Linked DNA regions of Homo sapiens. The protein of the gene in region 2 purifies or fractionates together with the protein of the main gene of each other region. This does not show direct contact. Each region holds a gene or a part of one and is shown on either strand. Other genes may lie near its edges.

Region 1 (3,500 bases), on a different chromosome or scaffold from region 2:
TGTCTTTAGTTCATTTATTCTGTGACTGTTTTCAAAATTTCAATGTTAGGAAAGAGAATTGCCTGATAAATCTGGAAATATTTATAAATTACAATTTCCTGCTATATGTGGGTGCCATCTATGGCTTAGTCTAGAGCCACTAACGCTGTTCATTCTACAATGTTCTGTGAGATTTTGCTACTTTAAGTAAGTTCTATCATCACTTACATGGAGATAATTCTCAAATTTAAATCTCAGCTCTTTTTGCATACAAAGTTCTGTATCACATCATTATCATCTAAAGATATATATGACAAAGAGGGCTTCTTAATCCTTAAATCCCTTTATCACTCTTCCTCATCATAATAGAAATGGTCATTTGACAGAACTAGGTTTGGAATCCTAAAAGTCAGCATCCTAACTGTATTTTTTGTGTTAGTAAGTTCCAAAGAAACTTCAATTATACACACAATGAGACAGGCAAGCACATATCATTAAGCCTATATTACAGTGAACACATCAAGGTTCAGAAAAAGTTGTGACTCCTCCACAATCAGGTGACAAAATCAGTACCTATTCTAACTTCTGACTCTCTCCCAACCTGATGGTTCATGCAGATCACACAACTGTCAAAATTGGTTCCTAAATGATCACACATTCTTCCTGAAAGGCTTTTATTAAAAAGAAATCAGTAATTTAAAACCTCAGTGATTTCTGTTAAGCTTTTTTTAAGAGAAAAGAAAAACTGACATAAAGAAAACACTAATTGAAGGTATGTCAAAGTTTTAAAAATTAAATTATGGTCCAGGGAGAGGAAGGGGTGTCCTTGTAAAATATATTACTGGAACAACTCTCAAAATTTGAATATAAATAGTAATTCAGATAATAGTATTGTGTCAATGTTAAGTTTCCGGATTTTGATCATTGTAATACACTACATCAGAGAATGCCCTTGATCTTAGAATTACACGCTAAAGGATCTAGGGGAATAGGAGCATGACGTCTCTCATATGGTTCAGAATTAAAAATTATACACATATATAGAGTGAAAAAGCAAATGTGACAAAATGTTAAAAACTGCTAAATATGTGTGAAGGGTAGCCAGAAGTTCTCGTACTATTTTTGTACCTTTTCTGCAAGTTTAAAATTATTTCAAAATAGAGTTTAAAAAATTTTTTGAACCCTAGAATAGGTATTACAAGTTTATATTCACATAATAGAAAATACAGCTAAAAATAGTCTAATCTTACAGGATTTTCATGTGGCTCCTAGAAATATAACATCTTAAAAACTGAAGACAGTCTTTTCCCAATGCTAGTGGCAGGTAATTACCCAGCCTGTTATTTAAATATAAAATGTGGCTGGGCACGGTAGCTCACACCTGTAATCGCAGCACTTTAGGAGGCCGAGGCAGGCGGATCACTTGAGGTCAGGAGTTCGAGACCAGCCTGGCCAACATGGTGAAACTCTGTCTCTACGCAAAATACAAAAATGAACCAGATATGGTGGCACACGCCTGTGGTCCCAGCTACTTGGGAGGCTGAGGCAGGAGAATCGCTTGAGCCCAGGAGGTGGAGGTTGCAGTAAGCTGAGATCGCACCACTGCACTCCAGCCTGGGCAACAGAGCGAGACTCTGTCTCAAAAAAAAATAAATATAAAACAAAAACTCACTTGACCATGTGGAGTAAGTTCTTAGTCAGTTACACCTGGTTTAGATCCTAAACAAAGAGATGTTTATTTATAAAATTCAGACTACGCATTATTTCCTCCACAGATAATACTCCATTGAGCAACACCCGTGGTAAAGTCCAGCAAGAGAATAACAGTAACAACAAAAAAAGAAATACTTTAAGTGAAATATCCCATATATTCTGAGAGAGACGTTTCAGAGAATAGCCTCAATTGCTTTGAGAGCTAGAAAATAAATATGATTGAAATCAAATCATGGAAACAGGCAAAAGAAAGTTCTTATTTGGTAACACTTTTAAGGAAGCTTCTCCACTTGATGATAAATCAGAGAAGTCGGCAGAATGCAAAGAACACTACTCATACCTAGCTTGTGACGTATCTGCTTCAACTACCTTTGACTTTACCACAGTCAAATCGCCATTGACATCAATGAGAAGAAGGGTAATTTATTCCTATTCTAACAAACATCCTTCATCACTTTAAACTCTATATAAAACTCACTTTCTCCTTGAAGCTTGTTTGGTCCTTTCATTTTTTTAAAAAAATATGCTAAATTCCAAAACAGAACAACACAATCAATTATAAATAACAAGGGGTAGTTCACAGTAAAACATAATAAGAGACTAATTTAAGTTTTCTTTATACAACTTTAAAAGTAAAAAACATAATTTAGAAAATGTCAGGACATATTACAACTCAAAATAATGATCATTTATTCCAGTAATGTTGCCTTTGTTAAAAACATTCTTGGAAGTTTTCTCAAAATGTTTCCAGTGTCAAGTAAAAAGTCCTATTAATTTAGAGTCACATCTCTTGGGGGAAAATGTGGATTCACTCGCCTAGTTCTCTTTATCCATCTTATCTACCAGACTTGACATCTTATTAACCTGCAGTCATTAAAAAGCACTATTTCCACTCAGGATGTTCACAAATTGGCCATATAATCTCTGAAGGTAATTACAAAAATGTTCTCATCCTTTCTAATTTCATATTAGTTTTTTATTTTGCTACTGTAGCTTTGAGTCATATATTTAAACATGATTTTAAATTTATTGAGAGTCTAAAACCTGTAATTTCTTGCTGAAAAAAATTCTCCTTTTCCAATTCTATCACCTGAGTTTAATTTATTTTCCTGTCTCTCTCGTTTACATCCAAGTAGCTCAAAGTTCTATTCATGCTTACTTCCCCAAACAAGTCTCAGCATATCAGAAGAAAACAATGAACAACAGGTTAGGAAGGGAAAATGATGAAAACCACAAAGGAATAAAGAAACTTTTTGAGAGAGAGAGAGACAGAGAGTGAGAACACCACAAGAACATATGTAAACATATGCATGTACATGTTCACACATGCATGTGCACACACACAACATATCATCACTTTTAAAGCTAGTTCTCAGATTAAAACAAGAGTATATGTATGTCGTATTCTTCATCAACTGCAACCTAAACTGTGATTGTCTAGATTATGGCTAACGACAGAAAGCAATGGTTAAGAAAGCCAAAAACCAAAAAAGAGTCTGTAATATCTTCTTCATAACCTGAAAAAGCACTTATTTCCTGACTTCCTGCATCCAATAAGAAGCTTCAGGTTTGGAATTCTGAGTGCCACAACATGATCTGTATTGAGCTGTACCAAATCATACTATTAATATAAAATTAAGTTGATTTAAAATATGAAATTACGAGAAATGAAAAATAGAATTTCCTATTCAGAATAAATATGGCTTTCTTCAAATAGAATTGAAAATTAATCATTTAGTATAAAATAAAACTTGACCCATAACAGCTCAAATGCTATTTCAAACAGTATAGTTATAAATGTACATAAA
Region 2 (5,738 bases):
AGAACTGTAGTTCCAAGTCAAATATGTGTTTTTAAGAGCCAATAATATGGGTTTTAGTAAATTCTAAAATCACATGGTAAAATCAATGTCTTATGAGTGTCAACAACAGAATGATTGGTGTTAAAATCCTAACTCTTTAGTGAGCATATGAACACAGTCATCAATCTATAAATTAAGAAATGGCTGTGTATTTTAGTTCAAATAGTTTCCTATTTAGGCACATTTAATACTTTGTTATTTATTTTAAATTTTGAAAACTTAGCTTAGTCCTGAATGAAGTATTTTCTGGTTTACGAGGACTGCAAATCATTACCAGAAAGTGAATTGAGCAATATTTCCCTTTATAATTTAAAACTATGACTTTCAAATAAACAATTATCTAAAAACACTTATGCTATTAGATAGCATATTCTTGAAATGCGTGCAAAATCAACAACCATTTATTCTCCTCTTCCCTGTTTTAAAGACATTTTTATTGGGTTGAGAGTGTTTCAGGATATAAAGCAGTTTGCCAAATTCTGTCACCCTTTTTTTTAATGTCATAAAGGGTGTGGTGCCTGTAGAGAAGTTTTGAAAGTTGTACTTTATGATGTTTTTGCCTTCACTTTTTAAAAAAATGGTAAGATAATCTAAGTCCTGTCCGTATATTCTGGTTCCTAGTATAGGCTTCAGGGTGCACTCACTATGAAAAGTCAGAATATTTCCTGTAGCCAGTTTTACTTACTTCCTTGCCAGGAGTGTTTAGGTTCTTTTTTTTTTTTTTTTCTTTTTTGAGATGGAGTCTCACTCTGTCGCCCGGGGCTGGAGTGCAATGGCGTGATCTCGGCTCACTGCAACCTCCGCCTCCCGGGTTCACGCGATACTTCTGCCTCAGCTTCCCGAGTACCCGGGATTACAGACGCACACCGCAACACCTGGCTAATTTTTTGTATTTTTAGTCGAGGCGGGGTTTCACCATCTTGGCCAGACTGGTTTCGAACTCCTGACCTCGTGATCCGCCCGCCTCGGCCTCCAAAAGTGCTGGGATTACAGGCGTGGGCCATCGCGCCCACCCGTGTTTAGATTCTTAACAGCTCATTATTAGAAATAAAGTCTCGATAAGAACTACTTTAATACTTAATTTTCTTGCTTAGAAAGGTGAAAACAATTTAGAAGGAACAACGTGAGGCATCAAAGTTAAGCTGTATCTCCCATAGCTGGTGATTATTAAAAATCTCTATGAATCTAGTCTGTTCCTGTCATTCTTTTATTAATCCCTGGTTATTGGGAAGCTCTTAACAAAATAAATGTTTAAAATTATATTTCTGTAATTAAGTAAAAGAGAGTATTGATTCCACAAGGCTAGAATTGTTCGTCTAAGAAAAACGAATTCTCCGTAAATTTTAACCCGTTAATACCACAGAAAGATGCTGTTGGAAAGGTCTAAGAACAGAGAGATGCAAGCAGAGAAACACCATTTTCAGAACATGACATGGGATGGTGAGATTTGCTGATTTGGTTCCGTCTTCATTATCTGACATTTAATGACAGTTCACACAGAAATCGCTCGCCTGAAAACCCGTGTTTAAATCCCGGCACAGAGACTGTCTTCCTTGTCATTGTCATACCAGTAAAAAAAAGAAAAGTATCTAGAGAGAGAGAGAGGAGAATAAGCACAGAAGTTAAAATACAATAAAATCCCTTTTCCCTTTCTTTCCTTGGATCTGGGTTTTGAAGGAGACAAAGAAGGACCCCCAGGCTTTCCAGCAGCCAGCAAGCGCTATTACTTTTTATTTAAAAGCAACTGGGAAAAACATTCCCCAAAGCAAAACCAGAAGCCCTCCCTGAGAATCGTCTCTGGGCGTCGGGGCCCGGGCCGCTGGGGTGCCACTCCGCAAGGGGTTCCTCTTCTCCCCGGGGTCCCTGAGGGCTGGACGAGAGAGGACCCGTCGGTCCCGGGGTGCCGGGAGGAGACGTTCGCCCGCCCCACGAGAGGGGGCGGCTCTGGCCTCGGAGCCGCCCCTCCTGCCGCCGGAGAACAAACGGGATATTCAGCAGTGGCCTGTGGCTGCCAGAGCAGCTCCTCAGGGGAAACTAAGCGTCGAGTCAGACGGCACCATAATCGCCTTTAAAAGTGCCTCCGCCCTGCCGGCCGCGTATCCCCCGGCTACCTGGGCCGCCCCGCGGCGGTGCGCGCGTGAGAGGGAGCGCGCGGGCAGCCGAGCGCCGGTGTGAGCCAGCGCTGCTGCCAGTGTGAGCGGCGGTGTGAGCGCGGTGGGTGCGGAGGGGCGTGTGTGCCGGCGCGCGCGCCGTGGGGTGCAAACCCCGAGCGTCTACGCTGCCATGAGGGGCGCGAACGCCTGGGCGCCACTCTGCCTGCTGCTGGCTGCCGCCACCCAGCTCTCGCGGCAGCAGTCCCCAGAGAGGTAACGCGACCCCTGCCCGGGCTCCCTTTCTCTCCTTTCCCTTCCTCCACCCCTGCAGCCTCGCCTGCTGCTTTACTCAACCCGCTTCGGCGCGCCTGGGTGACCCAGCGCTCGACCCTGCGCTCCCGCGCGGTGCAGGCGTCCGCCACCCTCGGGTAGGCTAAGCCCGGGACTTCGGGACCCATCCTTGCTCGCGGGGCTCCCTCCTGGGTCCCCAGCCCGGCCTGCCGGATGGCCCTGCAGCTGGCTTGGCCACCACGTGGCGGGGCTTAATCTGACTTGTGTCTCCCCTCTCCTCGTGTCTATGGGGCCAGAGGGAAGCACTGGGGCCCAAATATGTGGATTTTGGTTTACCGCTGTTTTTTTTCCTTCCCCGAGAGGCTTTGCCCAGAGACGTAAACTAGGGAACAACCCTAGCGGCGCGGCGCCTAGGGAGCCGCTCCGGAAAGTTAACTCTTCGCCAACCTCTGGAAGGCCCCAGGAGCTGGGCTGTGGGACCTGCCCGGTGGCCAACTTTGGCATCACCTCTTCAGCCTCCATCAACATCAGCCTCCCTTTCGATGGGAAGCTCTGCCAATGGCGAGTGATTTTCAGAAAGGGGGAGGAGAACTGGGCATCTCTCCAAATATGGGAACGACAAACTTTTTTTATATTAACCAATTGCTTGCCTGTCTTTCTTTAAAACCATGCTTCTCATTCAGCCTGGCTCTTACCTTCTCTCCCACTCCCCCAGTTAAATTGATGTATTTACCATTTTCCTACAAGACTTTGCCACAATGCCGAGGACTTGATTATACATATATATAATCTTGTGTTATTATGATGGAGACAGATGGCGCTGGACTGAATGCTTTGTCAGGCTATAATTTAAATATTCTAGGAGCTAGCAAATTTTCAGATCCCTTATATGGTGCAAGCATTGATTAATCAACATTAACTTTTATTTATATTAATAGGCTACACCTTTCTGAAGGTAACATCAGATTGTTAGACCATGTTTCAAATTACATTATCTTTTCTTCTTTTATGTTCCCAGACCTGTTTTCACATGTGGTGGCATTCTTACTGGAGAGTCTGGATTTATTGGCAGTGAAGGTTTTCCTGGAGTGTACCCTCCAAATAGCAAATGTACTTGGAAAATCACAGTAAGCATTTTTTAAAAAGGTATTCTCCTGGAAGTGGGTGTTGGCAACAGTGTGAGGCTGCTGCCTTTTTCCTCTGGTGTTAGGATTTGAGTAAGAGGCAAATGCCTGAAATAGTGAAATGTTGGATTTACCCCAACTATTGGGAAGATTTTTATTAATATAATAGATCTAGTCGTGTCCTGCATTAGTGATTACAAAGGGCACAAGATAATGCTTGAAGGAATAAATTCTCAGAGCAGATGTGTTTCTGAAAGCCCAGTGTGACTCAGTTGAGTTTTATAGATTCATAATTAAAGCTGTTTTCAGTCAAAGGCCTGTTGTAATGACCTTCATAAGTTTTTTGTTGCTCGTGCCTTCATAAATTCCCAGTGGGAAATGGAAGATCAAAGATAGTGCTTTGACTACTCTATGCTCATTAGGAAAGGAAAAAGAAAAAAAATAAAAAAAGCCCACTTAATGTTCCTGGGTTGAAACCACCTCTAAAGGCAGTCTAAGAATAGAGAATGGGGGGGTGGGAATCTAAATAGCAGCCAAGGGCCAATAAAAAGTCCATGCTGATTAGTAATAACATAGATTATGCTGAGTCAAGATAAGCTGGATTTAGAGACAGCCATATATTTTTTAACTGATTTAGAGTCAACTAGAGTGAGTCATCTTTCCAGTCAGCATAGCATTGACTGTTACCTTCTTCACTTTTTCGTTGTTGGGAAGTTGTTTAGTAATTGAATACGTTGGTTCACTGAGAGCTTCTTTCAGTCAGATTGTGCCACTGGAGGACTTAGATTTTTTAAAAAGTAGCCCCCACTGAATGTGTAAACTAGCAGTTACTGTGTGCCAGGCATTTACCATGCCAAGTAGTTAGCAAGTATAATCACCCAGAATCCTCAAAACAACTGTATGAGAAAGTATCTATTATCATCCCTATTTTATAGATGGGGAAGCTGAGGCCTGAAACAATTATAGAAATTGACTTGATCAGACAGTCGGGAAGCCCAACTTTATGTAAAAGTAAAACCTACTTTGCAATAAGGTATTCCCACTGAGGTCATTTTGCAGGCAGATATGAGAGGTCCCCTTCCATAATATAAAACTCAGCTCTTACATGCCTTGACGGCCTCTTGTAAAATGCCAACCATGTCACAAACTGGTACAGATTTCATTATGTTATTATAGCACATGTGGCCAGGAAAGAAGTCATAGAAAATAAGTTTGAAATACTATTAACATAAATGTCAAATAAGTCTCTGAAACAAAAATAAAAGCAGCTTGATTTTCATGTCGTGATTGTGTTTTAAATGTAATTAAATGGCCATAAGTTTTAAACGACCCTAGAAAATCAATGGCTCAGAGGCGTCATGTGCCCAAGTAGAAATTCATGGTTGGCCATGTGTTCTGAGTATTGCGGACAGGTTGATGTGACTTTACACTTTGACTGGGGTTGGGGGGCACGTCCAGTGAAAGCTTTCCTTGATAAAGGAACGGTTTGCCTCAGGAGAGGCATGATTTCCTGTGTGGGAGTGGGGAAGTTAAATGGATGCTCCATCTGGATGTCCTGTGAAGGGAAAGCCTGTGAGCTCAGCAGTCACTTCCCTGGATTCAAATTCCAGTTTCACCGCCATAAACTGTGTGTCCAGGATCTACCTCCTTTAAACCTTAGGATTACTGTGAAGACAAAATGAGATAGTGTAAAATGCTTCAACTCAGTGCCTGAGTGGGAAGAAGCTTGATTTGTCTGAAGAACAAATTAAGGAGGTTGGAGTGGCTGGAATGGAATGAGCAAGGGGACAGTGGGAAGAGAAGCGAAGAAGGTAAACAGGACTCTGTAGGCCACGGTGGAGAGTTTGAATTTTGTTTTGAGTAGGAGTCACTGGAAGATCTTAAGCAGAGGAATGAGCTTATCTGGTGTCTGCGTGGAAGATGAACTGTAGGGAGTTAAGAGTAGAGGCAGAGAGACCAATTAGGAAGCTGTTGTGGTATCCAGGAGAGGGAAGATGGTGGAGTAGACAAGGTGGTAGCAGAGAAGATGAAGAAATGCGGAGTCTTCTGCCCACAGTGTTTTCTCAGCAGCTCTGCCTGCGGTTAGGATATAGTGGCACCAGCTAGAAGGATACATGCACCAGGCTCTGTCTCCCTGCTTAGCCATTCCAGACAGGACTGTGCTCTACTATGGCCTTGTCCAAGGCCATCT
Region 3 (3,500 bases), on a different chromosome or scaffold from region 2:
CCCAAGTGCTGCACATTCCAAGAGGCGCTCAGAAAAGGTTCTGAGGAAAGGTGGCATCTCAGAGGGCCTGGGGTTCCTGGGGCAGGAAGGGGTTTCTGGGGCAGGAAGGGGTGTCTGGTGCATGCAGCCAAGTGTAGGAAGCATCTCCCCGATGAGGAGGCAACACACTGGTTGCCTGAAGCTCGCTCTGTTGGTTCTCAAGACATGGGAACTTGTCCAAAGCATTCTAAACTTTTTGGTCTCATTGGCTTGAGGAAGGATATTACATCAACTCTTTCTAGCCAGTCAGTTTCATCCCAGGGAAGAGAGGTAGGGTGGTCAACTATCAGGAGAGGAGTGACCTGCCTGGGGGCAGGGGGAGTTCTCTCTAAAGAAAACTGTGGTTCCAAACCACTGTGCACTGAGTAGACCTTCTGTAGCCTGTGTGTGTTATCCCTGTTTAGGTATCATTTCTTCAAACTGTGGTGATAACGGGGGAAGCGCTTTGTAAAATTAGAAATATTATTATTGTTGAGTCTGCTGTCACAGCTCACTGTTGCTTCAGTTGGCTGATCGGGACGGTGTGGGAGGTGGAAGCAGTGCCCTCCCACAGGGAAACCCCTTCTCGTGTAGACTTAAGCCGCCTATGCTACCTGTGCGGACGCTTCCCATCTGGTTTGGATCTGTCTTTAGGATGAATGACTTCCGGGTCAGTGAGGCACTATTTTATCTAGTCATAAGAGGAGGAAATTATTTTTCCAAATTAATAGGGAACATGGGAGCAGGATGATCAGAGAATTGAAATACTGACTATAGCTTCATGTGTCCCATGTGTACCCCATGGGGTTCGGTTTCTATCTTGTTCTTTTTTTTTTCTTGGTTTTGTTTTAGTTTTATCTCTTTATTTATTTTGAGTCACAGCCAAACACACACAGATACACACACACACACACACACACACACACATTCCAAACTAAAAGCCAACAAACAATTGCTCAACTCAGGAGAGCAACCTATCAATTGATTGGGAAATAACCAGTTGCTCAGCTATTTTAATTGATGGAATTAAAAAATTAGCCTACTCAGGCATCTAACCCAACTGACAAATTTGGGTCAGTTTAAAGCCCGTGATGACAGATGGAAAGGCCCGGAATGGGGCTGGTGTTGGCTGTTTGGGGGAGAAAGGCCAGATGTTCGCACTCAGGGAGCCAGGGCAGGAGGCCCGGTGGAGACTGCTGTGACACAGGCATGCTGAGGTGGGAGGGTGCTGAGACCCCACCAGGCCAGGGTGTGGGCTGTGTCCCTTGGGGCGGGGGTGGGGGGGCGGGGAGGTGGTGGCAGTGCCACCTGATCAGCAGTATCTCATGGGGGAAGAAACCAAATTATCACCACCTCCCCCTCATTTAATAGATGAAGATACTGAAAGCCTGAAGGGTGAAGAGACTTGCATCAAAACACCTAACAAACACACAAGTTGGGGAGGACCGCTATCCAGACCTGGAATTCCATAATCCGTTCTTGTTTCTGAAACTTGACAATGTTTAGGGATCAGTGACTGAACATCACTGTAAAGCTGTGCGTGCCACAGAGTGTTCCCAGGATGGTGCTTTCTGTGGGTTCCTTCCCTGCTCCAGCCCTGCCCTGCCCGGCCTCCTCCAAGGCTCCTGCCAGGCTGCTGGTTTCACCGCTGCTGAGAATGTTTTCTCAGCTCAAGGGACATGTCTTAACTTCTCCACTCCTAGGCACTGGGAACTTGCGCCCACTCTGAATAGCAGAAGCTTCTATTTTTAATCCAGGCAGCCTTTGTAAACAGTGCAGCCCCCTAAACCCTGAAATGGACTCCTTCCTATTTTCTTTTGTTTATCTGAAGCATTCTTGGGAATTTTACTAATTTCTCTTCTACAATCTGTTTTCAGCAGCCCATAGAGCCCTTGTTCATCACCAGCTGTTATTAAGTTTTACCAAGAAGTGGTTTTTGGGGGTAGAAGGTGCTTAGAGAGCACCCAGGTTCAGAGAGGGAAGTGCTTTCTGGAATGTCACACAGCTACGAAGGCATGAGAGCAGAGCACAGAACTCCTGCCTACTTAGTAGTCCTGGCGTTTTAAAAAATATGTATCTGCCCGTATTTGTGAGGATGTTTTTGGCTTCAAGGAAGTGACCATGTAACTCAACGTCACTGGGGGTCCAGAGGCAAGGTGGGCTCTGGGTTCAGCTTTTTCCATGGACCCAGCCCCGGTTTCTCTTAAGAGCCCTTGGATGCATCCTCTTTGTGCTATGGCTTTGTCTTAGAGTCACTTCCCTCACGGGGCAAAGTTGCTGTTAGTCCCTGCCTGCCGTGCCTTCCTGCCCAGGACATCCCAGGAAAGAGACAGGCCAGCACCCCAACATTCCAACAAACAGTCTTGAAATCCTCCCTCATTGCACCCCTTAAGCCACATGCCCCTCCCTAAACAAGGATCAGGGCAGAAATTCCCGCCTGCACTGATTGGATTAGGTCTGGCTCCTGAACCAACCAGTAGCAGGAGAGTTGAGATGCCCCTGCACCAATCAGGCCCTCCCTTGGAGCTGGGAGGGGCTTGTGTCCCTGAGGCACATGGGCTGCCTGAGAGAAGAGTATATTATTGAAAAGAAGAAAAAGAAAGAGAAGATGAGGAGAAGAGGATAAGAGGAGAAGAAGGCGAGGAGGGGAAGAGGAGAAGAAAGAAGAAGAGGATCTATTGGGAAGCTGGGAGAATGGATGCTGAAGGAGCAATGAGCAGTATTCACTAGAATTTTCCAATACTATACTACAAACTCCTTGAAGACCTTTGTTGTGATCAAGGCTCTATCCACAGTGCTTGGCGTAGAAGGATTTGGACATGAAGAACCTGGGAACTGGGGACACTCCTAGGTACAGGCCCTGCCTGGTGTTCATTCATCTGCTTATTCAGCCAACCAGAAAGAGCCAGGCATGGGAGTTTAGCTGTGCAGACCCCGTTGGTGGCTGACCCAGTTCCCTTTTGCTGGTGCTGCTGTGAGGGTTGCCTGCTGACAGCTCACAACTGCCCTCCCCTCTCCAGAAAATTGTCCTTGGCTGATAAGACCTAACTGACCCAGTTATGCACCATGACCTGCATCCAGAGGACAGATCACAGCCACCAACTGACCGATTCTATCCAAAAGGCCAGCCTGGAGAGCCCTCCCACTGTGGACCAGGCCAAGGCTAGATGTCACCTTGGCTCCTTCCCTTTTCCATCCCACTTCCCTCACTTCCCTACAGGGAAGACAACTGCCTCAATACATAACATGCACCTAAATCCCCATCTCAGGTTCTGCTTCTAGGGAACCCAATCTAAGACAACCATGAAAAACCTTTACTGTGGACAGGCTGACTATTACCCACAGATTACAGACATGTAAGATATAAATTACAGGAAGAAAGCAGACTAAATGATATAACAGATGACCAAGCAAAGAAATCTGCCTTCGTTTTACATATAAATGGGTGTGACCATCACTGACAGTAGTATGTCCAACCAGAG

The links. Proteins that work in one complex are often made in the same cells at the same time.
Region 1: the proteins of PCOLCE2 (region 2) and STRN purify together in Homo sapiens (affinity purification with mass spectrometry, with the first as the bait; one large-scale study listed by BioGRID). This does not show direct contact.
Region 3: the proteins of PCOLCE2 (region 2) and SERPINA12 purify together in Homo sapiens (affinity purification with mass spectrometry; one large-scale study listed by BioGRID and IntAct). This does not show direct contact.

The regions. Positions count from the first base shown.
Region 1 is NC_000002.12:36,851,537-36,855,036, forward strand, and holds part of STRN (striatin), read right to left. Parts: intron 1-3,500. UniProt on the Homo sapiens protein: Calmodulin-binding scaffolding protein which is the center of the striatin-interacting phosphatase and kinase (STRIPAK) complexes.
Region 2 is NC_000003.12:142,885,481-142,891,218, reverse strand, and holds the start of PCOLCE2 (procollagen C-endopeptidase enhancer 2 precursor), read left to right. Parts: upstream 1-2,135; 5' UTR 2,136-2,322; coding exon 2,323-2,405; intron 2,406-2,759; exon of another isoform or gene 2,760-2,955; intron 2,956-3,441; coding exon 3,442-3,550; intron 3,551-5,738. UniProt on the Homo sapiens protein: Binds to the C-terminal propeptide of types I and II procollagens and may enhance the cleavage of that propeptide by BMP1.
Region 3 is NC_000014.9:94,499,470-94,502,969, reverse strand, and holds part of SERPINA12 (serpin A12 precursor), read left to right. Parts: intron 1-3,500. UniProt on the Homo sapiens protein: Adipokine that modulates insulin action by specifically inhibiting its target protease KLK7 in white adipose tissues.